7 linked regions of the Homo sapiens genome follow. Changing the gene in region 1 together with any one later gene gives a genetic interaction. Each region holds a gene or a part of one and is shown in the gene's direction. Other genes may lie near its edges.

Region 1 (3,500 bases):
TTGTAGTTTGATGGAAGGTACAGTGTGAAACCCTAGACAGACTAAAGGTTAACTTTGAGGATTTCTTTCTCAGCCAGAGTGGTAATAGTATGCATTTGAGAGGGGAGGAGAGTAGAGTTCTAAGGATGTGGTCTTTGGAGACAGTTTCTTGGGTTCCAGTCCCTGAGCTACCAATTTGTGTCTGGGGTGTTATCCTCTTGATGTCTTAGCATCCCTATCTGTAAATTGGTGAGGATAATGATAACATCTGATAAGGTGGTTGTGAGGATTAAAGGAATTGATACATGTGAAATCCTTAGAACTGTACCTGGCAAAAAGTGTTTGATAAATGATTTTCAGTTATTGTGCCAATATTATTTTAGAGTTGATGTACTTTCTCATTAATGGAACCAAACACTTCTCAAGTTAAAATTACGTGCTTAGGACTGGTAAGTTACAAAAATGGTACCACACGTTTTATCTATTTCAATTTAGAAATGTCTGTTGATTAAATGTGTTCGCTTTAAACTACTGAAACAATGTAGACATTTATAAAATGAAAGCGTATTGATCCCTGTTATCTCATTCGCTACCTTTAACGGTTTGGTGTATATTCTTCCCCAAATTTTCAAATATATTCATATATGAATATGTATTTTTACATACATTTTATAAAAATGGGACCAAGTTATTTGGTTCTAACATGGCTTTTTTTTAAGGTCAATACAAAGATCTGTTTTATTAAAAAATAATTGATATTCCTTTAGGGCTCACTATATGCTTGGTACTCTTCTAAGTCATTATTTTATATAGATACTATAATATCGAGAGATGGAGAGATTAAGTAACAACTAGTTAGTGGTAGAGGAAGGATTTTAATTTGGGTACGTTAGCTTCAAAGTCCTGATCTCCCAGCCAGGGATCATTTTTGGTAAGGCCTGTGAGCTGGAAACGTTAACACTTTTAAAAGAGTTGTAAAACAATACCACCCCACTTCCCTGAAGAACATATAAGGGAGACTAGATACCGCCTGCCAAGCCTAAAATACTTACCATGTGGCCCTTTACAGAGAAAGTTTGCTGCCCCTTGCTCTAAGCCATCCAGCTGTACCTCTTTGGTGTAAGGGGGGTGCATAGTATTCCAGTTTATGAATGTGCATTACGCAGCAAACCAATCTGTTGTGATTGACATTGTTTTCTCTCCTGAAAAGAAGTGAACATCCTTATGTATCTTTGAACATTTGTGTGACAATTTTCTATAGAGTTGGCTCTTTCAAGATTATGAACATTTCTAGTTTTAATAGGTGTTGTCAAGTTATATTAATTTTTAGTTAAAACAACAACTGTATTGAAGTATAATTTACATACAATAAAAAGCACACATTTGAAGGGTATGATTTGAGGAGTTTTGACAAATGTATGCACCTGCACCGCTGCCTGGATCAAGATCTATAATGGTTGCCATCATCTCAGAGTCCTTTCATCCTCTTTTACAGTCATTCTCTCAACTTTTTTTTTTTTCCCTCCAAGATGGAGTCTTGCTCTGTCACCCAGGCTGGAGTGCAATGGCATGATCTCGGCTCACTGCAACCTCCGCCTCCTGGGTTCAAGCAATTCTCCTGCCTCAGTCTCCCGAGTAGCTGGGATTACAGGCGTCTGCCACCACACCCAGCTAATTTTTGTAGTTTTAGGCGAGATCTCAGCTCACTGCAACCTTGACCTCCTGGGCTCAATCGAACCTCTCACCTCAGCCTCCCAAGTAGCTAGGACCACAGGCATGTACCACCATGCCCAGCTAACATTTATTATTAATATTTTTTTGTAGAGATGGGGTTTTCCTGTGTCGCCCAGGATGGTTTCCAACTCCTGGGCTCAAATGATTCTGCCTTGGCCTCCCAAAGTGTTGGGATTACAGGCATGAGCCGCGGCACCTGACTTGTAGTAAACTCTCTGAATTAATATTCCATTGTAGGCATGTGCTACAGTTTTTAAATTCATTTACCCATGGATGGACACATAGGACTGTTGTCAGCTGTTGATAAAGCTGCTATCACCATTTGTATGTCTTTCCTGGACATGTTTTAGTGGTAAATATTGATTTTACTTTGTAAGAAACCGTTAAACTCTTTTCCAAAATAGTTGTACCATTTTAAATTGAAAGTTACAGTTGTAACTGTGCAGGAGTTACAGTTTCTTCACATTTTCATTGACACTTCGTGTTGCCAGTCTTTTAAATTTTGGCCATCAAATGAGTATTAAGTATCTCATTGTGGGTTTGTGTTTCTCAGATGATCAATGATGTTGGAACATCTTTTCATATGCTTATTGGCCATTTGTGTACTTTTTTTGGTTCAAGCCTTTTGTCCCTTTAAAAAATTGGATTGTTTGTCTGGTTGAGTGGCAAGAGGTCTTTATATGTTCTGGGTACATAGTCACATTATCTGTCAGATTGTGTTGCAAATATTTTATTGTTCATTTTTGTTTGATTTTGTGTATTTTTAATACTATAAAGATCAAGTTAAAACTTTAATATGGGAAGCATAATCAGATAAATTATGTGAAACAAATTGTCCTTAATTCACGAGTCATTTAATTAGTGTAACAAAATGTTATGCATTTGCAGAAACTTGTAAACTAAAAGGATATTATTCATATGCTGTTAGGTGTATGGATGATAATTTTTTTTAATTAAACTAGTTTTGAAAATTATTGTATTTAGTAATTCTCTTCATTTTGCATAATTCAAACCTTTTCATTTATTAGTGAGTTAAGCCTTAAATTTTTTCTTCAAAGGATAAATGAGAATATTAAAAGTAAAAAGTGACCTTGATCTTAGAATGGGGTATGTAGAAATGATGATTGCCAAACTTAGTTTCCCTACTTTGACAATCAAGTAAAATTTTTTTTTTTTTTTTTTGAGACGGAGTCTTGCTCTGTCCCCCAGGCTGGAGTGCGGTGGCGCGATCTCGGCTCACTGCAAGCTCTGCCTCCTGGGTTCACGCTGTTCTCCTGCCTAAGCCTCCCGTAAATTTTTTTATTATAGAAATGGATGGCTTTTCAGATTATATATACTTGGTTTCTATACACTATTTTATTTTTGTAAAGTAGCAGTTCTTTTGCTCAACACCTGAATTGCCCCCACAATAAATTTTTAGTTTTTCTTCAATATTCAAGTAATACATAACTTTTCCTTTTCCTGTTTAACAAAGAAAAAAATATATAAAGCAAGCTGTTGGACCTCCATTGGGTGTTGTTTACCACCACTGTAGGTGATCGTGGCATTGTCCACCTCAGTCTTCTCATGGCTGTGGATTCAAGTTAAGAAATTCCTGAAGGTAGCATTCCAGGTAGTCTGTAGAACAGCCCAAACTCTCTGAATTAGTATTATCTCTGATAGGTGTTTTTTTTTTCTTTGCTTTTTTATTTGAGACGGGGTTTTGCTCTGTCACCCAGCCTGGATTTCAGTGGCACAATCTTGGCTTACTGCAACCTCCACCTCCTGGGCTGAAACAATCCTCCCAC
Region 2 (2,876 bases), on another chromosome or scaffold:
GAGACAGGGTTTCACCATGTTGGTCAGGCTGGTCTCGAACTCCTGAGCTCGTAATCCGCCCGTCTCGGCCCCACAAAGTGCTGGGATTACAGGCGTGAGCCACCGTACCCAGTCCCAACAGTTTTTTAAAACCCAGAACTATAATGCAATAATGTTAGCATTTGTTTTGGGAGTTTGAGCCTAAATGGTTGAAGTGCAGTAAATTGTTCTTAAAATACGTTTTATGAAAGTATTTGGAGTCATCTTCCTTACATTTTTTTCTCTAGGATGAAGACAACACCTAGCCAGGCATGGTGGCTCATGCCAGTAATGCCAGCACTTTGGGAGAATGAGTTAGGATAATTGCTTGAGTCCAGGAATTTGAGACCAGCCTGGGCAATGTAGCGAGACTCTGTCTCTACAAAAAAGAAAAAATTAGCCGGGTGTGGTGGCATGTGCCTGTAGTCCCAGCTACTCAGGAGGCTCAGGTGGAAGGATTGCTTGAGGTGGGAGGTTGAGGCTGCAGCGAGCCATGATCATGCCACTGTACTCAGCCTGGATGACAGAATGAGACGCTGCTTGAGAGGGGAAAAAAAAGACACCTGCTTGGGATGATTAAAGTTCTGTCTTGACTGGTAGTTATTTGAATTAGGTCCCTCCAGTGCTTTTAATCATGGTAGAATGTGCTAGCAAGTGAGTTTGTCTTACATGGAAGAGTTCTGTGTTCAAGGGCTTTCGGCCAGTGGCATTCCTAAACACAGTGTTAAAGGCGGTAGGGAATGTGAAAAGTATGACATAGTTCCTGCTCTCAACAGCTTGTAATTTTAGTATTATTATCGTAAGCTCAATTGTAGGTACTACTTCTTTTCTGGACTTTCAGGTGCTTATTACCGTGCAATTTAGTGGTATGAGTTGAGGACTAATGTTTCTATATCACATCCTGATAATCTCCACAGTTATGAAAACTAAACTATTTCCCCTCCCTCCTACACTTTTCCCCAACTTTATTTTAATGGAATTGTTTGGATTTCTTGATTGTTTTGTAATAGTGGGACACAGCAGGCCAGGAAAGATTTCGAACAATCACCTCCAGTTATTACAGAGGAGCCCATGGCATCATAGTTGTGTATGATGTGACAGATCAGGTAAGTTCCAAGAGGAGATTGTGTTACAGTGACCAAGTAGGAAGCCATTATTTGATTAATGTCAGATTCATTTACTACTTCATATATAAGCCATCAGTATTAATTTTATGGCAGAAAACTTTGTCCACTCTCAAATATAAATGTGAATCACTTAAAAGACATTTGTTTTCCTGTAATAAATAAAAGATTAGTAATTAGTTTTACGTTTGCTTTCAAGGGATTCTGGTTGTATTTATTGTCAACTAAATAACTTTGATCAAATAGCCAAGACTCTAACATATAGGCAAGAGTTTGTAGGGAATCGTGAGTTGCTTGGCTTATACTGTGTTCTTGGTGTTAAGTATTAACAGGAATATGGCCTGGTAATTAGAACTTGTCCATCAGAATTGCCAAAAGTGGGATTCGGGGGTCTCTGCCTATGGAGGATGTGGTTCAGAAATAAAGAATTTGAATAGGATAAGCTGTAGGAGGATCTTAGTATGAGAATGAGTATCTGAAGATTAGCTGTGAGAGAGGGCAGAGCGATGGAGGGAACAATGTGGGACAGTGTGAAGCATGTGATCCAGGGGCCATAACTTTTTTTGTTACTATTTTTTTAAATCAGAAACTTAGATTTCAGTGTCCTTTCTATCAAAGAAAAGGACAAAAGATAAACGTTCAAAATTGGAATTTATTTTTCTTTTGGCAAATGTTAAATCTCACCTCTAATGAGAAATCATAGCTAATTAGGAGATAACTTACATGTAAGCATTTAGATTCAGTGCCATTAGAAGTGCTGGGTGGGTGATATCTGCAGGAGAAAAAAATGATGCTAGTTTAAAAAATCTCTACTATTACCGTGAAATATTTTTAAATGAAAACTTTCGTCCTCTAAATATGACTGTGGAAAAGAAAATGAGTATATTTAATAACATCTTTTGACATCTCTAGTAGTAACAGTAGGTCATCTTATTCATAAACCAAAATTTTACCAAATTTCAGGCCAGGCGCAGTGGCTCACGCCTGTAATCCCAGAACTTTGGGAGGCCGAGGCGGGCGGATCACCTGAGGTCAGGAGTTAGAGACTAGCCTCGCCAACATGGCAAAATCCCATCTCTAGTAAAAATACAAAAATTAGCCAGGCGTGGGGGCCCGTGCCTGTAATCCTAGCCACTTGGGAGGCTGAGACAGGAGAATCGCTTGAACCCAGCGGGCAGAGGTTGCAGTGAGCCGAGATCGCGCCATTGCACTCCAGCCTGGATGACAGAACAAGACTTTGTCTCAAAAAAAAAAAAAAAAAATTAATCAAATTTCAAAACCAGGTTTTGTAGTACATTTAAATTGCATATTCCAAAGCAGTTGGGTTTGCCTGCGTTGCAGTTTAATATTAAGCTATACTTCCCTTTCAAATAAGGTATTTTCATCGTTAAGCCTGTAAATTCTAGTTTGTCATTGTTTAGATATTTATAGTCATTTTAATATATCTGTTTACGGCCAGCTGCAATGGCTAACACCTGTAAACTCAGCACTTTTTGAGGCCAAGGTGGGCCGATTGAGCTCAGGAGTTCGAGACCAGCCTGGGCAACATAGTGAAACTCCATCTATACAAAAAATCCAAAAAAAAAAAGACAGGTGTGGTGGCATGTGCCTGTAGTCCCAGCTATCCCGGAGGCGGAGGCGGGAGGATGGCTTGAGCTTGGGAGGTCGAGGGTGCAGTGAGCTGTGATTGTGCCACTGCACTCCGGCCTAGGTGACAGAGCAAGACCCTGTCTC
Region 3 (3,062 bases), on another chromosome or scaffold:
CATAGTTTTTTATGTCTGCAAAAGCTTGTCATAGATAATAGTTAATACTTATAACAGTTCTTCATTTTATTGCAACTTAATGTGTACAACCATTTCTCTCTTGCTCAACTTTTAGTTTCTTTTCCCACAGTGAACATCGTTTTCTATATTTTGGGTTATGTTCAATTACCAGTTGTTCAGTGATAACTGATGTTACTGATAAGAAATTTTATTGCCTTCAAAAGTTTTACATACTTACATTTTATAATATTTATGTAACATGTGTATACTTTGTTTTAATAACTACAATATATATTTTGTTGAATATCCTGCCATTTTTCATTTATATCATGAGCATTTTATCCTATTATAAAATGGTTTTATTTCCTCCATTTCCTGGTGATGAGAATTATGAAATCATTTTTTAAAGGAAAATTTTAAATATTTCATCATACAAATGTCTTGTAATTTATTTTTTTCTGTATTTTTAGACAAAAATTATTTTCCTATTAAAAGTACTTTAATGAACAGTTTTGTATGTAAGTCTATGTTTATGTCTGATTTTCTTTTTTGGGATACATTTCTAGAAGTAGAAAAAAGGATGCAGAGTATTGATATTTTAAATATTTTTGATACGTATTGCCAGATATATTTTTGACATATGTTGCTTTCTGTGGGCACTCATTGCATAATTATAAAGCTTTTTTAAAGTGTCAGACAGCGTTCTGGGTGCTAGAGATATAACTGAACCAAAAGAGCACAGATGTATTAGCTGGGTGTGGTGGCACACGCCTGTAGTCCCTGCTGCTGGGGAAGCTGAGGTGGGGAGATCGCTTGAGCCCAGGAGGTCACGGCTGCCATTGATTGTGCCATTGCACTCCAGCCTGGGTGACAGAGTGAGACCCTGTCTAAAAAAGAGGAAAGACAAAAAAAGCACAGATGTATTGTGTATGAGAATATGGCTTCACTGCAGCAGCCCAAGCACTGAATATTATTGATTTTTAAATCTTTGTTATTTAGCTAAATGAAAAATGCTCTCTTTTAGTTTGCTGTTCATAGTTTGCTGCTCATAGCTTCTTAGTTCAGAATTTAATCAAATGATTTTGTTTTCTTTATAGATTGTGCCAAGGACTTGAATGGATGATGTCACGACTTAAGATTAGATGATCTCTACTGACCTCTTCTCATAGATTTTGTATAAATGAAGTGCTGGACTTTACCTGAAAGCTGCAAAAATTAATGGTTTAGATATATTTATAATAAACTGATTTAAACTTTTTCTATAAGAAGAAAAATTAAGACCACTTATTTGAAAACAAAGATGAAGTCTCACCTTCCAGTTTGCTTTCTCATTAGTTTTTTCCAAAGTAAGTTATTGAAGCTGTGATTGACATTTTTCTCATAATGAATCCTCTCAGGACATTGTGTAGCCTATGGTAAGTACAAAGGGAGAGGAAGACATTTTGAATTTTAAGAGCTTTATTATCAGTTTAACCCTCCCTAGTTGAATGTTATTTTCTTCTTGTTCCATTAAGTCAGAATACAAATCAGCACAGATATTCGAATGTTTCCAATATTTTAAAATGTAATGTTACTTATGAAAAGTATTTTGCTTAAGGTTGTGTGTGTATTGTGTATATACCTCAAGTTCAAGTTAATGGCATTGATTTATGTTCCAGACAAAAATAACACAAATAATAATATCCTTCGTTATAACCACAATGAGATAAGTATTGGCATTAGTGTTCAGTGCCATTTTATACTTTCTCTCTGTGTTCTCTGTATTGTACTAACCAACCTCCCAAATCGCTGAGCTGCTTGTTTAAAAAAAAAAAAAAGGAAAAGGAAAAAGCATGACATTGTGTATCGATTTTTTGTTGTTGACCAAAATCACACACATGGAAACATGTAATTCAACAGAGTGGGAAAGCTAGCAGATTCTTGGCTTAGTATTACTAATAGGCAGGATTGTACAATGAGCAACTATCAGATTATTCCTTTCAGTGGTTCTTATGGCATCTAAATTACTGAATAAATTATTAATCCATTAATCAGTGAATCAAATTATGATTACAATTATCAAATGAATGCTCAGCATTAATTGAAAACTGTTTTGTGAAACATGTCTACCCAGAAAAGTAGCATTCTATAAATACTATTAAACAACTTAGCTATATTATTTTTAAGTATTAAATTATATGTCAAGCAGTTAAAGTGAATTTCAGAGTAAAAGTAAGGCATGTTTCTGAGCAACATTGATAATTTCTTAATTTGCAAATTTCTTCTTATTTTGGTACTTGGAATATAGTGTGAGATTTTTTATTTCTAAATTTTGTTGTATCTTCTATTACATAAATGCATTGACAATTATAAAATGCAAGTGTTTTTTGAATGATTTTAAGAATTTGGCTTAAAAATTGATTGATACAACGTATTATTTGTACTAAGAAGTAACTTGACCCAAAACACCTTTTATGTTTGCTTAGGGTATATTTTTTCAGTGTCTGAAAGTCAAAGGTATTCCTGTCACAACTGTAAACAAACTTATCCTAAATGTGTTAAAACATATTCTTGGGTACTCTATTTATGTATCTTTCATGCCTTGAAAATCTGAAGGTTAATCCAAACTCACATGTTTTAGCATATTTGAGAAAAAAAAACTACCTTCAATATCAGCCTTTTAAATTTCATGAAGATTTTGGTGAGGAATAATAGTATATAGTTTAAGTATTGACAAAACTTTGAAAGTTTCTTTCTTTAAAATGGGAAATACTCAATATCTAAATCCAGGTCAGGCATGGGATATCAGTATTTAACATTGGATGTTTTATGTTTTATATTTATAATGTTCAAAATGCAAGCATAACATTTAATATTTGTCCACATGGTTTTACAAAAGTAAATCTTAAATTACTAAGCTTTTCCCATATGTTCTCGTACTTTCTCAAATCCCTATAAAGAATTACTTGTTATCTATTAAAAATCTCCTTTACCCAAATCTGTATTATGGTTTCGCCAGACAAATATTATGTGATGTAGCCCAGAAAATCCACACCTTTTGTCCTTTTTATGTTTTAATTTGA
Region 4 (3,500 bases), on another chromosome or scaffold:
AGCTGCTTTAGAGCATTTCTTTTAACACCAGGAGTTCTTCCCCTCATCATCTTTTTGGCTGAGTCGTCACTGCAGCGCTCATAGCCCCGCATGTACCTCTCCAGCCAGAACCCTTAGGAATCATTTGGGGAGCTCCATGAAGGGCATTGAGTCCAGGCAGAATGGCTACCTTGAGTTCAACATAAGCATTAAGATGGCCATTCGAAAACATTAAGCACAGAAGAATCCCATTCAGGTAATCTTCTGTTGGCTGGCTGTAGAACTACGGAGAACATCTGGAGAAACACGTCAAGGGTGTGTGTGAAATCGTTGAGCCTACTCGATTTTGTCGTGCTGTTGCGCGGTTTTCACTTGGCACTGTCCTTTAAACTCCTTCTGTGCCGTGACTCTGCAGTGTCTGGCAGCGTAGTAGACTCTACTCCCTCTATGGACGTGATCCCTCTGTGGGTTCTCTGCACACTTCTGTATTTCTCGGTTCTTTTTGGATTTAGGAGTGGATTTTATACATTTTTGAGTCATTCCTAAAGAGCGATTGACCCTTAAAGAACTGTGTACAGTGGTTTCCTTTCAGTAAGAACATAGTTGTGTGGCACCCCCTGACATGTGGTGTGGTTGATTCTTCTTCCTTGTCTTCCAACGCCACCCTCTTATGAGTCTCTTCCTACCCCCACAGGTGCCGCTTCTCTGTCTCCCTTCCCTCAGTCTGGCTTTTAACGGTGGTCTCCTGACATAGTCCATTCAGGCTGCTGTAACAAAATCCCATACCCTGAGTGGCTTACACACAACAGAAATACTGCTCACAGTTCTGGAGGCTGGAAGTCCAAGTTCAAGGTGCTTACCAGATTAACTGTCTGGGGAGGGCCCACACTCTGGTTCACAGAAGCACCTTTTCACTGTCTTCACATGTTGGAAGGGGCGAGGGATTTTTTTTCTGGCGTCTTTTTTATAAGGGCACTAATCCCATTTGTGAGGGCTCCACCCTCATGGCCTAATCACCTCCCAGAGCCATCATACTGGGGATTAGGTTTCAACATAAGAATTTTGAGGGGACATAAACATTCAGATCATAGCATGGCTGGAGTTCTGTCCTGGGCTCTCTTTTCACTTTCCTTGTTCTCATCTCATCCACTGGTAACTGCATTGCCTCCTGTCTCCACCTAAACTTCCAAGTATCTCCAGCCCAGAACCCTTTTGAGTCCAGGACCTGTCATTCATATCCATCCCAGAACCCTTTTGAACCCAGGACTTGTCATTCATATCAGACCACCACGAGCATTTCACTACAGCCTCTGATGGTCTTCCCTGTTTCCTCACTTTTGCCTATTTTTTTTCTTTTCTATTCCCTCTTAAGTGGGCCACACTTTTGTTCCCCTGGTTCTTATGTCAGGAATGTGGGTGTCCTTTGGACACTTCCTTCTCCAGTTGGATACCAGGCCCTTTCCCTCCCGAATGGAATGGAAATGCTGCTTCAGCTGTGTTCCTCTGCTCCTCCCCCTTACAGCAGTGACATAGCCTCTCTCCTGCTATTGTGTCCTGTGGCTCCACCGAGCACTGGGGAGCTTTTCAGTATGCACTTTTTTTTTTTTTGGAGAAAGAGTCTTACTCTGTCACCCAGGCTGGAGTGCAGTGGTGCGATCTTGGCTCATTGCAACCTCCGGGCTCCCAGGTTCAAGTGATTCTACTGCCTCAGCCTCCTGAGTAGCTGGGATTACAGGCCCGCACCACCACACCCAGCTAATTTTTGTATTTTTAGTAGAGACGGGGTTTCACCATGTTAACCAGGCTGGTCTCGAACTCCCGACCTCAGGCGATCCACCGGTCTTGGCCTCCCAATGTGCTGGGATTACAGGCATGAGCCACTGCGCCCGGCCATCTAGTGTGCACTTTGGACTGATGAGCTCCCCTACCTGAAATCCTGTAGCAAGTCCCTATAGGATAGGCATGTGGTACAGTGTGAAGCTCCTGAGTGGTCAACAGCTACCCCGTGACAACATGCCACACTCCATGTGCCACTCCCTCCCGCCTGCCTGCTGTGTCCTTGGCCCCAGTGGTGCTCTCCCGTGCTGACCAGCCGGCACGGCTCACCTGGCCGAACTCTAGCCTTGCCTTTTCCTCTCAAGGATGTAAAGGCTCTGCAGATTTCGGGAGGCCTGTCTCCCAGCACCTGATGGGACACTTTTTGCCCCACTGTAAATTCTGGGTGTATCCTCCACTGTATGCTGTCACCCCAAGGGCAAGCACTGCATCTGCTTAGTGAAGGATTTATTGTTCGGAAGATACATTTTCCCCTTGAGCAGAGAGTAGCGTATCCTGGCAGTCTTCGGTGAGCCAGTTGTACCAGGATTATGAAATGCAGATGTTTACTGTGTCATTGTTGCTGTCATTGCTACTGAGGAGTACTGACCAGAATCATCTGCAACTCTTAGTTGGCAGAGAGGACCACTATGGCGGGTAGCTCTTTTCTTTCCTGCCATTGTGGGGATGATTCCAGGCCAAAGATGATGGAGAAGTATGGAAATCATCTGAAAGGTTGAAGCTTGGCACGTGAAGCCATTCATGACTTTGTAAGGCAGTTTTGCTGAAGGCCAGTTCTGCCCTGGGAGGGACGGAGGTGAATCCTCCTGAGTACCTGTGGTTTTCTTACTTCCTGCTGAATTTACCTAAGTGCCTGTTGTTTGCTTGCTGTGGAGGCTTTCTGGTATTTCATTTCAGGTGCAGATGCCTTCACTTTCCCACAAAAAAAACCCCAACAAAACCTAAGACCTTACTGCAACTAAGTCTCCAAGTACTTTTTAACCCATTGGGATGAACAGCCTGTGGTCTGCTCAGATCACCCTGAGTGCGTGTGAGAAGGCCTGGGCTTTGCCAGGAAATCCAGGAAGGCAGGGCCGGGCTGTGTTGGAAGCTGGCTTAGCTGGTGGGGCAGCCTTATTTCAATTAAAAGGGCATTGACTGGGAGCAGCAGTCCTGGAGTTTGTTGCATTTCCTATTGCCCTCAAAATGAGAAACCAGGAAAATAGCAGATTGGAGCCTTCGAGAAGGCAGTAAATGGCTGTTTTTATTGACAAAAGGAAAACATTTTACTGCCATCTCACTGATGGCATCTCACTGACTTAAAATGAAGGCAGGTTGTAGTAAAAAAAAAAAAGTCTACATTTTTCCACCGCCACGTTCTTATATCCTTGTTTGTCAGCCACTGCTCACAAGGGCAGTGTTGTCTTGCGGAGTAGAGGCGCTCTCCTTCCCTCGTTTTCCTCTATAGGTTGGTGTGGCTGACCTGCTAGATCAAAGTGGAGGACCTGTTTAAGAATGTGTAAATTGAAGGCTGGGCGCAGTGGCTAACACCTGTAATCCTAGCATTTGGGGAGGCTGAGGCAGGAGGATCGCTTGAGTCCAGGAGCTCAAGACTGGCCTGGGCAACATGGTGAGACCTTGTTCATATAAAAAAATTTAAATAATTAGCTGGTTGTGGAGGCACGTGCCTATAGTCCCAGCACTTT
Region 5 (3,500 bases), on another chromosome or scaffold:
GCCAAAGTATCCCTGAGATCTGCAAGGGACCGAGGACAGTACTGGCTGGTGGTCTGGGTACAGGCCACAGAGGCATCTGGACCCCATGTGCATCTGGACCAGTTTGGTTGGATCCATTCATGGACACAAAACGGATGTGAACTCACAGAGCTACATTTTCTCCCTGCCCCTGTTCAGGCACAGTGAGGTGTCGGGGAATGTAGCTGCCAGAGTTGACTGTCCCGTTCTTTGGTGTAATGCCTGAAGGCCACCTTTACCATTGGTCTGTGGTCCTCACTGAAGAAAGAAACATTCTTCCTAAAAGACTTTTTTTCCTCAGAGTTGGAGCCCACAGCGTGGTCAGGAAAGAGAAGTAGCCACTGGTGGCTCCTGGCATCCTCCTGCTGGGCAGCCCCTTCTCAAAGTGTGAGGGGTCCCCTTGTGTACAAGCAGGAAGGCTCTGAGAAAGTCAGGTTTGCTCCTACCACAGGATAATTCCGATGAACCTGAAAAGCGGGTTTTGGCTTGTGTGCAGGGACTCTGGTGGAAGAAAGGGTGACAGCACCTGGCCTGGGCATGACACAAGTTAGGACCCGTACCAAGAGGCCCTGGAATTGAGGGTGGGGGTTGCTGTGGACTCTTTCTCCCTCTTAGGAAACTCTATTGGGTCTCCATCTGTCACAGAAGCAGTAAATGATGTAGGGGCTGCCAGGTATAGGGTCCTGTGGGGATGCTGGAACATGCCGAGGCAGGACGTGCCAGCCACCCTCTGCCCATATGTGCAGCAGGGCCACAGATGTGCTTGTCGGTAGGAGAGACCAAGCTGTCTGTGTGCCGATGTCTTGACACCTGAGACTTCAGGTTCACCCATCCTGGTTCTGCCATTCCATTGCAGGGTGGCTTCCCTCCTTTGGGGACTCTTAACGCTTTGGTCTGTTAAAAAAAAAAAAAAAAATCCGGGCGTGGTGGCTCACTCCTGTAATCCCAGCACTTTGGGAGGCCGAGGTGGGCTGATCATCTGAGGTCAGGGGTTCGAGGCCAGCCCTGACCAACATGGTGAAACCCCGTCTCTACTAAAAATAAAAATAAAAATTAGCTCAGCGTGGTGGCACGCGCCTGTAGTCCCAGCTACTCGGGAAGCTGAGGCAAGAGAATCTCGAACCTGGGAGGCAGAGGTTGCAGTGAGCCGAGATCGCACCTGAGAGGTTGCAGTGAGCTGAGATCAAGCCACTGCACTCCAGCCTGGATGACAGAGTGAGACTCTGTCTCAAAAAAAAAAAAAAAAAAAAAAGCCACCAATGGGGAGGGCCTGGGATTACTGGCATCACAAACCCCACTGCCTGCAGGCTGCATGATCTCCTGGGCATGGTTGGCGGCACTGCCCCGGGCATGAGGAGGCAGCAGGCATGTGTGGATCACGGACAGTGCTGGGGTCGAGGGGGTTGGTGACGGTGTGACACCCCTTCCCCTGAGTGGCTGGGTGTTACTGTCAATTCTCCCAAGTGCTGTGCTTCAGTGGTCGTGGCAGTCTGGTGCTGCCTCTGCCCAACTGGCAGGCGACCCTTATTCCTGAGTCCCTGCTGACTTGGTGTCCTAGGTTTATTCCTCCTAGACTTGTTAACTTGTACAGTTAACAAGCCTTTGACACCACACACCCTCGCCTCAGCTTTCCAACCCCCTAGTAATAACAACATCAGGACTCCCTGAGTATCCTCCACCATATGTTTTCCTGGAGTAACTCATAAAAGGCCCTCTTTTCGTTCCATTTCATGCTTGGGTTTTTCATGCGAACCTGTCATTATTAGTTTTTCCGCATTGCCTAGAGTTGCCCAACCCCATAATAAGAATACGTAGGTGGCGTGCCCCATTCTTGCAGGTGTCCACTTCCTGCTCCAGTCTGAGGGGGTTGGCTAGGCTGCTGCTCTCTCTCCATGTGGGGTTGGCTAGGCTGCTGCTCTCTCTCCACGTTGCTGTGGGCTCGCATCCTCTCCCTGGTTCCCTGGGGGAGCTTCTTAGGGAGGGAGCATGTGAGAGATCTGAGGCCCTGCAGTTTGGGAGTTATTTTCATTCTCCCCTAACACTTGTTGGATACTTTGGCTGGGTATAGAATTAAAGGGTTTCGAAAGCAGTGTTTCAGAGTCTTCCATTCTCTGGGGCATCAGAGGTGTCATTTGCCCCTGTGCATTCTGGAGTCCACCTTGCACCTTTATTGGGTCTCATCTAGGTCCTTGGCTTTGCGCTTCAGCCCTTTGAGGCCGAAGCCCAGATTCCTGGGTCCCCACTCTGGAACAGGGAAAAATTTCACCCCGTAATTTCGTACGTTCTTTCTTTTTAGGGTTTCTGTTGGTTGATATCTTAAGTTACTCCTCATCTTCCTTTTTCATTCTGTTTGTTTTTGTTCTGCCTTCTGAGCACCTTCATTTTGAATTTTCCTTTTCAGCTATTTGTGTATCTATCAGGTTTCTCTCCTTGTCCTTTGTTAAAATAGTATTCTGTCTTCAGTCTCCTGTCTTGGTTGCCTCCTTGCAGATTCCTTTTATATTTGGGTCTCTTATGTTGGTGGCCTTTCAAAGGCAGACAGGCCTGTCTCTTGGTGGGGGGTGGGGGTGGGCGGAGCTCCAGTTGCTTGTGTGTGGATCTGCTGGGGCATATAGAACTCTCAGGAATTATTCTGGAATTTCATGGCTCAAGTGTGTTGTCATGGCTCAGCGCAGGCCTAAGCCCTGCTGCAGCTGCTCCCCTAGACCAAGCTTGTCCAACCCTTAGGCCGCATGTGGCCCAGGATGGCTTTGAACCCGACCCAACACAAATTTCTAATAAAACATTGAGATTTTGGGGGTTTTTGTTTTGGTTTGGTTCACCAGCTGTTGTGTTAGTATATTTTGTGTGTGGTCCAAGACAATTCTTCTTCCATTGTGGCCCAGGGTAGCCAAGATTGGACATTGCTGCCCTAGGCAGTCCCAGCTTCATCCCTTGGGTCCCAGGCGGTCCAGTTTTCTCTGCCTGGTCAATCATCACATCCAAGGTCTTCCTCCCTTTTCTCTCTGCCCTTCAAGGCGTGTGTGTCATTTTGGTGTCTTCATTGGTAGTGGTTGCAGGAGTGGACTGAGAGGGCAGGTATTCAGTCTCTTCTGTGCTCCATGGGTGGTGGTCTTCCTCTGGGCTTAGAAAACCTGGCCGTCCCCAAAAAGGGAACACTACAGTGAAGGTCCTTATAAATTTCAGAACTCATTTAAATTTCAGAATAGGTGACATGTTCAAAACCAAGAGCAAAGTGTCCAAAGGACACTGATCCAGCTTGAAGGGGTTCTGTGGCTCATCTGGGATGATGGCAGTGTTAAATCAGACACGGGCGGCCAGTTCACACCCACTGAAACACACAGGCATGTGTGGGCTCTTGCTGATGTTGAGAAATGGAGAAGAGGCATTTCCTTGCCGTAGCGTGCTGGGGTGACTGGATGAGAGAGTCACCAGCGGACAGTCATGGCTGTGATTCAGCCAAAAGCCACCTGTGTGTGGAA
Region 6 (3,074 bases), on another chromosome or scaffold:
CATGACTTGGTAATGGATTGATTACTAGGTATATTAATCCAGGTTCATACTGCTGTAAAGAACTGCCCGAGACTAGGTAACTTATAAAGGAAAGAGGTTTAATTGACTCACAGTTCACAGCATGGCTGGGGAGGCCTCAGGAAACTTACAATCATGGCAGAAGGTGAAAGAGAAGCAAGGCATCTTCTTCACAAGGCAGCAGGAAGGAGAAGTGTTAAGCGAAGCAGGGAGAGCCCCTTATAAAACCATCAGACCTCGTCGGGTGCGGTGGCTCATGCCTGTAATCCCAGCACTTTGGGAGGCCAAGGTGGGCGGATCATGAGGTCAGGAGATCAAGACCATCCTGGCTAACATGGTGAAACTCCATCTCTACTAAAAATACAAAAAATTAGCTGGGTGTGGTGGCAGGCACCTGTAGTCCCAGCTACTTGGGAGGCTGAGGCAGGAGAATGGTGTGAACCTGGGAATTGGAGTTTGCAGTGAGCAGAGGTCGTGCCACTGCACTCCAGTCTGGGCGACAGAGCGAGACTCAGTCTCAAAAAAAAAAAAAAAGAATAGGTGGAATTGAATTGAGGCCGTCAGTGAACAGTCAGGAACATTGGAAGGCTCATCCATGTGGATGTGCACAAGGAGGTGACAGGAGGAGGAGAAGAGGCAGTGATGGGGAACTGAGAGGAGTGTCAGAGGACAGTAGAGACAGCAAAGAGGAGGGTTGTGGCTTGATGGCATGGTCTTCCTAGAAGCCGGGGTTTTGAAGAGAGGAGATCTAGGCATGATTTAGAAGCATGAAGGGACCAGGCTCCCAGGCACCTGGTGTGTGAAAGGAAAAACAGCCTCCCTAGGCAGGATTCTATCAGGACCAAAGGGAAAGGGCCCTTCAGAGAAGACAGCCCATGTTCCGGAAAGCATGTGAAAGGCTTTGGGAGGTCTGGAAAGGAGATGAGGGTCAACAAGAATGTATTGCCTCATCCAGGCAGTGCGCTGGACACGCAGATGCGCTTGGGAGCCAGCGGTCCCTGCCTTGGCTGCTTGTGGTCTGATGGAGCAGTTGAGGCACAGTGGTGGCAGCTGGCTAAGCACCTGCGGCCTGCTTCGGATCTGGACTAATTCTGAGGGCCGGCTCTCCTGGGCACCAGGGTTAGGGGGTTACGGGGAGTATGTGAGTAACGCCTGCTTTGGGAACATAAACCCCCTCCCCCGCCCCCATGTGCGCTGTGACCCACGCCCTCGCAGTCCTTTCTCTGGAATCATCCATGCGCCCCTGGAGCAAGCTGGGGCGTCTGTGAAGGGGTGGGTGAGAAGGAGCTGAGGTTGCGCCCGCCCTGCAGTCACCTGCTCTCCCCTTTTCCCCGCCCCTGCCCTCCTAGACACCATCCGGAAGATGAAGAACGATTTCCGGAAGATGGAGGATGAGATGGACCGGCTGGCCACCAACATGGCAGTGATCACCGACTTCAGCGCTCGCATCAGCGCCACGCTGCAGGACCGCCACGAGCGCATCACCAAGCTGGCAGGTGGGCGCTGCCGGGCAGGGCCTGCAGTGGGCCTTTCCTGGGGCTCTGGGGCTAACGTCACCCTCCGTCCCCCAGGGGTCCACGCGCTGCTGCGGAAGCTGCAGTTCCTCTTTGAGCTGCCCTCGCGCCTCACCAAGTGCGTGGAACTGGGCGCCTATGGGCAGGCGGTGCGCTACCAGGGCCGCGCGCAGGCCGTGCTGCAGCAGTACCAACACCTGCCCTCGTTCCGCGCCATCCAGGACGACTGCCAGGTCATCACGGCCCGCCTGGCCCAGCAGCTGCGGCAGCGCTTTAGGTGTGGCCCCTCTGCCCTGACCCCAGCGCTCCCGCCAGCCCCGAGCCCCATCTGTGCCCGGCTCCTGGGCCCTCCTGGAGCTGTCCCCCTGCCCTGTGTGTGCTTTGCTTTCCTGCTCCTGCCCCATCCACCGGCAGCCCCGGCCCTGCCCTTCACTACCTCTCCCTCGTGCAGGGAGGGCGGCTCAGGCGCCCCGGAGCAGGCAGAGTGCGTGGAGCTGCTGCTGGCCCTGGGCGAGCCTGCGGAGGAGCTGTGCGAGGAGTTCCTGGCGCACGCCCGCGGCCGGCTGGAGAAGGAGCTGAGAAACCTGGAGGCCGAGCTGGGGCCCTCACCTCCGGCTCCCGACGTGTTAGAGTTCACCGACCATGGAGGCAGTGGCTTCGTGGGCGGCCTCTGCCAGGTGGCGGCGGCCTACCAGGAGCTGTTTGCGGCCCAGGGCCCAGCAGGTGCCGAGAAGCTGGCGGCCTTCGCCCGGCAGCTGGGCAGCCGCTATTTTGCGCTGGTGGAGCGGCGGCTGGCGCAGGAGCAGGGTGGTGGTGACAACTCACTGCTGGTGCGGGCGCTGGACCGCTTCCACCGGCGCTTGCGGGCTCCCGGGGCCCTGCTGGCCGCTGCCGGGCTCGCAGACGCTGCCACGGAGATCGTGGAACGAGTGGCCCGCGAGCGCCTGGGCCACCACCTGCAGGGTCTCCGGGCGGCCTTCCTGGGCTGCCTGACAGACGTCCGCCAGGCGCTGGCAGCACCTCGCGTGGCTGGGAAGGAGGGCCCTGGCCTGGCCGAGTTGCTGGCCAATGTGGCCAGCTCCATCCTGAGCCACATTAAGGCCTCTCTGGCAGCAGTGCACCTTTTCACCGCCAAAGAGGTGTCCTTCTCCAACAAGCCCTACTTCCGGGTACGCCTCCTCTTGGGTGTTCCTTGTTCAACCTGCTGGTTGACCCTCCAAAACCTTTTATGCCAGTGCTTGGGAAACTGGGGAAACCAGGCACTCTGGGTGTGGTTTCAGGTTCTTATGCACGGTCTGGGGGGTGGGGAAGGCTCAGGGCATCTGCAGCTGGGCTGAGAAGCAGGGCATGGTGGGGTCCCCAGTGTTGGCTTTCTCTGCCCCCACTCAGGGAAGCTGCTCCGGGGTACTTAGAATGTAGGATGATGCTGTCCCTTGCAGAGGGGGCTGGGGCACTTAGAGCCCCAGCAGAGGGTCATTAACAGCCTTACCTGGAAGAGGGGACCTGCTGTGGACCTGGGCACCTTCTCTTGCAGGGTGAGTT
Region 7 (3,500 bases), on another chromosome or scaffold:
GAATGGCCTCAGGCATGGAGCTTGTGTTTGGCACCTCAGCCTCCTATGAATCTGCTTTGTAGGACTGGCCTGCTACTGCCTTATAATAGTCTCAGCCCTATACCTGGTTTCCTGTCATGCTTATGACCCTCTTGAGATCTCTTTGCTTAACTACAAAAAACAACAAGCATAGAACTAATAAGTGGATTCAACAAGGTCACAGGATGTGAGATCAATACACAAAAAGTAATTATATCTCTACATGCTAACAATGAACAATATGGAAACTGAAATTTAAAATACAATACCATTTACAAGGGTTCCAAATAAAGTGAAATACTTAATATATAGCTGACAAAACATGTATAAGATTTGTATGATGAAAACTACAAAACTACAAAATAAATTGAAGAAGATGTAAATAAATGAAGAGGCATACTATGTTCATGGATTGGAAGGCTCAACATAGTAACTTTGTCACTTCTCCCCAAATTGATCTGTAAATTCAACATAACTCCTATAAAAATCCCAGAAAGGTTCTTGTAGACATAGGTAAGCTTATTCTAAAATTTAGATGGAAAGGCACAAGCTCTAGAATAGCTAGAAAGAATAAAGTGGAAAGAATCACTCTCTCTGGGCCGGTTGCTGTGGTTCATGCCTGTAATCTCAGCACTGCGGGAGGCCACAGCGGGCAGATCACTTGAGGTCAGGAGTTCAAGGCCAGCCTGGCCAACATGGTGAAACCCCATCTCTACTAAAAACACAAAAATTAGCAGGGTGTGGTGGCACACACCTGTAATCCTAGCTACTTGGGAGGCTGAGGCAGGAGAATCGCTTGAACTCAAGGCGGAGGTTGCAGTGAGCTGAGATCGCGCCACTGCACTCCAGCTGGGTGACAGAGTGAGATTCTGTCTCAAAAAAAAAAAAAAAGAATCACTCTGGTATTAAGACTTACTGTCCACTTTGGGGGGCTGAGGCGGGTGGATCACGAGGTCAGGAGATCAAGACCAGCCTGACTAACGTGGTGAAACCCCGTCTCTACTAAAAATAGAAAAATTAGCTGGGCGTGATGGTGAGCGCCTGATTGCTACTCGGGAGGCTGAGGCAGGAGAATCGCTTGAACCTGGGAGGCGGAGGTTGCAGTGAGCCAAGATTGCGCCACTGCACTCCAGCCTGGGCAACACAGCGAGACTCCATCTCAAAAAAAAAAAAAGACTTACTCTCGGCTGGACACAGTGGCTCACGTCTGTAATCCCAACACTTTGTGAGGCCAAGGCAGGCAATCACCTGAGGTTGGGAGTTCGAGACCAGCCTGACCAACATGGAGAAACCTCGTCTCTACTAAAAATACAGAATTAGCCAGGCATGGTGGGGCATGCCTGTAATCCCAGCTACTCAGGAGGCTGAGGCAGGAGAATCACTTGAACCTGGGAGGCAGAGGTTGTAGTAAGCCAAGATCACACCATTGCACTCCAGCCTGGACAGCGAAACTCTGTCTCAAAAAAAAGACTTACTGTATAGCTATAGTAGTCAAGATTATGTGGTGTCGATGGAGGGACAGACACGTAGATCAATGGAAAAGAATAGAGAGACCAGAAATAAGCTCAACACAAATATGTTCAGTGGATTTTTTGACCAAGATGTAAGAACAATTCAGTGGAGGAGGAATAGCCTTTTCAATAAGTGGTGGAGTGATTAAAATCCATAGGAGGAAAAACCAAATGAACCTTGACCTAAACCTCATACCTTACAGGAAAATTAACTCCAATGGATCATAGATTTAAATGTAAAGCTATAAAAACTTTAGAAACAGGAGAAAATCTTCAGGATCTAGAGCTAAGCAAAGAATTTTTAGCATGTTTGGCAGTCCTGTGGATCTGTCTCTTGCCTCAACACTGTCTGGATGGAACAGATCCGGGGGAGACTCTCTTTCAAAAAAAGTAATAATTTTTAGACTTGACATTAAAAGCACAATCTAGAAAAGGAAAAATTGATAAGTTGGGCTACATTAATATTTTTAAAAGTTTTGTTCTATGAGAGCCTATGTGAAGAGGATGAAAAGACAAGCTGTAGACGAGGAGGAAATATTTGCAAATCACATATTTGAAGAAAGGTATCTGTAATATAAAAACTCTCAAAACACAACAGTGATAAAACAATCCAATTATTAATAGAAAATGGACAAAACATAGGAACAGATGTTTCACCAAAGAACACATACAGATGGCAGATAGGCACATGAAATGAAGATAGCATCATTAACCATCAGAGTACTGCAAACTAAAACCACAATGAGGCTCACACCTGTAAGCCCAGCACTTTGGGAGGCTGAGGTGGGTGGATCACCTGAGGTCAGGAGTTTGAGCCCAGCCTGGCCAACATGGTGAAACCATGTCTCTACCAATAAATACAAAAATTAGCTGGGCGTGGTCACACACACCTGTAGTCTCACCTACTGAGGAGATTGAGGTGGGAGGATCGCTTGAACGCAGGAGGTTGCAGTGAGCTGAGATCGTGCCACTGCACTCCTGCCTGGGTGACAGAGCAAGACTCCAAAAAATAAAAACACAATGAGACATCACTACCCACTTTTCAGAATGGCTGAAATAAAAAGTAGTGACAATACCAAATGCTGAAAGGACGTGGAGAAACTGGGTCATTCATATATTGCTGGGTGGGAATGTAAAATGGTACAGCTACTCTGCTGGCAGTTTCTTATAAAATGAAACATATAATTACCATACAACCCAGCAATTGCACCCTTGGACATTTATCCCAGAAAAGTGAAAGCTTACTTTCTCATAAAAACCTGTACATGAATGTTTATAGAAGCCTTAGTTGTAATAGCCAAAAACTGGAATCGGCCCAGATGACTTTCAATAGGTGAATAAACTGTGGTACATACACACCATGGAATACTATTCAGCAATTTAAAGCAACAGACATCTCCAGGGAACTATGCTGAGTGAAAGAAAAGCCAATCTAAAAAGGTTATGTAATATATAATTCCACTTATATAACATTTTTGAAATGACAGAACTTTAGAATTTGAAGACAGGCTGGGCGCAGTGGCTCACACCTGTAATCCCAGCACTTTGGGAAACTGAGGCTGGTGAATCACTTGAGGTCAGGAGTTCGAGACCAGCCTGGCCAACATGGTGAAACCCCATCTCTACTAAAAATACAAAAATTAGCCAGGCGTGGTGGCTCGCACCTGTAATCCCATCTACTTGGGAGGCTGAGGCAGGAGAATCACTTGAACATGGGAAGCAGAGGTTGCAGTGAGCTGAGATCCTGCCTGCACTCTAGCCTGGGCAACAGAGTAAGACTCCATCTCAAAAAAAAAAAGAATTTGAAGACAGATTGCTAAGGATTAGGGATGGGGGCAGGAAGGAGGAGGTGGGTGTGGTTATAAAAGGGCAACATGAGCTGGGCATGGTGGTGCATGCCTGTAGTTCCAGCTACTCTGGAGGCTGAGACAGGAGGATCACTTGCGCCCAGGAGTTTGAGGCTGCTGTGAG

The links.
Region 2: changes in EZH2 (region 1) and RAB1A together harm fitness more than expected from each alone (negative genetic interaction), as found in Homo sapiens cells (one large-scale study listed by BioGRID).
Region 3: changes in EZH2 (region 1) and ARL5A together harm fitness more than expected from each alone (negative genetic interaction), as found in Homo sapiens cells (one large-scale study listed by BioGRID).
Region 4: changes in EZH2 (region 1) and IGF1R together harm fitness less than expected from each alone (positive genetic interaction), as found in Homo sapiens cells (one large-scale study listed by BioGRID).
Region 5: changes in EZH2 (region 1) and ARF1 together harm fitness more than expected from each alone (negative genetic interaction), as found in Homo sapiens cells (one large-scale study listed by BioGRID).
Region 6: changes in EZH2 (region 1) and VPS51 together harm fitness more than expected from each alone (negative genetic interaction), as found in Homo sapiens cells (one large-scale study listed by BioGRID).
Region 7: changes in EZH2 (region 1) and GBF1 together harm fitness more than expected from each alone (negative genetic interaction), as found in Homo sapiens cells (one study listed by BioGRID).

What each region holds. Positions count from the first base shown.
Region 1 is NC_000007.14:148,874,292-148,877,791, reverse strand, and holds part of EZH2 (histone-lysine N-methyltransferase EZH2), read left to right. Parts: intron 1-3,500. UniProt on the Homo sapiens protein: Polycomb group (PcG) protein. Catalytic subunit of the PRC2/EED-EZH2 complex, which methylates 'Lys-9' (H3K9me) and 'Lys-27' (H3K27me) of histone H3, leading to transcriptional repression of the affected target gene.
Region 2 is NC_000002.12:65,089,231-65,092,106, reverse strand, and holds part of RAB1A (ras-related protein Rab-1A), read left to right. Parts: intron 1-1,028; coding exon 1,029-1,124; intron 1,125-2,876. UniProt on the Homo sapiens protein: The small GTPases Rab are key regulators of intracellular membrane trafficking, from the formation of transport vesicles to their fusion with membranes.
Region 3 is NC_000002.12:151,801,360-151,804,421, reverse strand, and holds part of ARL5A (ADP-ribosylation factor-like protein 5A), read left to right. Parts: intron 1-1,097; coding exon 1,098-1,146; 3' UTR 1,147-3,062. UniProt on the Homo sapiens protein: Lacks ADP-ribosylation enhancing activity.
Region 4 is NC_000015.10:98,711,039-98,714,538, forward strand, and holds part of IGF1R (insulin-like growth factor 1 receptor isoform 1 precursor), read left to right. Parts: intron 1-3,500. UniProt on the Homo sapiens protein: Receptor tyrosine kinase which mediates actions of insulin-like growth factor 1 (IGF1). Binds IGF1 with high affinity and IGF2 and insulin (INS) with a lower affinity. The activated IGF1R is involved in cell growth and survival control.
Region 5 is NC_000001.11:228,092,708-228,096,207, forward strand, and holds part of ARF1 (ADP-ribosylation factor 1), read left to right. Parts: intron 1-3,500. UniProt on the Homo sapiens protein: Small GTPase involved in protein trafficking between different compartments. Modulates vesicle budding and uncoating within the Golgi complex. In its GTP-bound form, triggers the recruitment of coatomer proteins to the Golgi membrane.
Region 6 is NC_000011.10:65,106,214-65,109,287, forward strand, and holds part of VPS51 (vacuolar protein sorting-associated protein 51 homolog), read left to right. Parts: intron 1-1,367; coding exon 1,368-1,514; intron 1,515-1,589; coding exon 1,590-1,809; exon of another isoform or gene 1,810-1,811; intron 1,812-1,983; coding exon 1,984-2,701; intron 2,702-3,066; coding exon 3,067-3,074. UniProt on the Homo sapiens protein: Acts as a component of the GARP complex that is involved in retrograde transport from early and late endosomes to the trans-Golgi network (TGN).
Region 7 is NC_000010.11:102,371,032-102,374,531, forward strand, and holds part of GBF1 (Golgi-specific brefeldin A-resistance guanine nucleotide exchange factor 1), read left to right. Parts: intron 1-3,500. UniProt on the Homo sapiens protein: Guanine-nucleotide exchange factor (GEF) for members of the Arf family of small GTPases involved in trafficking in the early secretory pathway; its GEF activity initiates the coating of nascent vesicles via the localized generation of activated ARFs through replacement of GDP with GTP.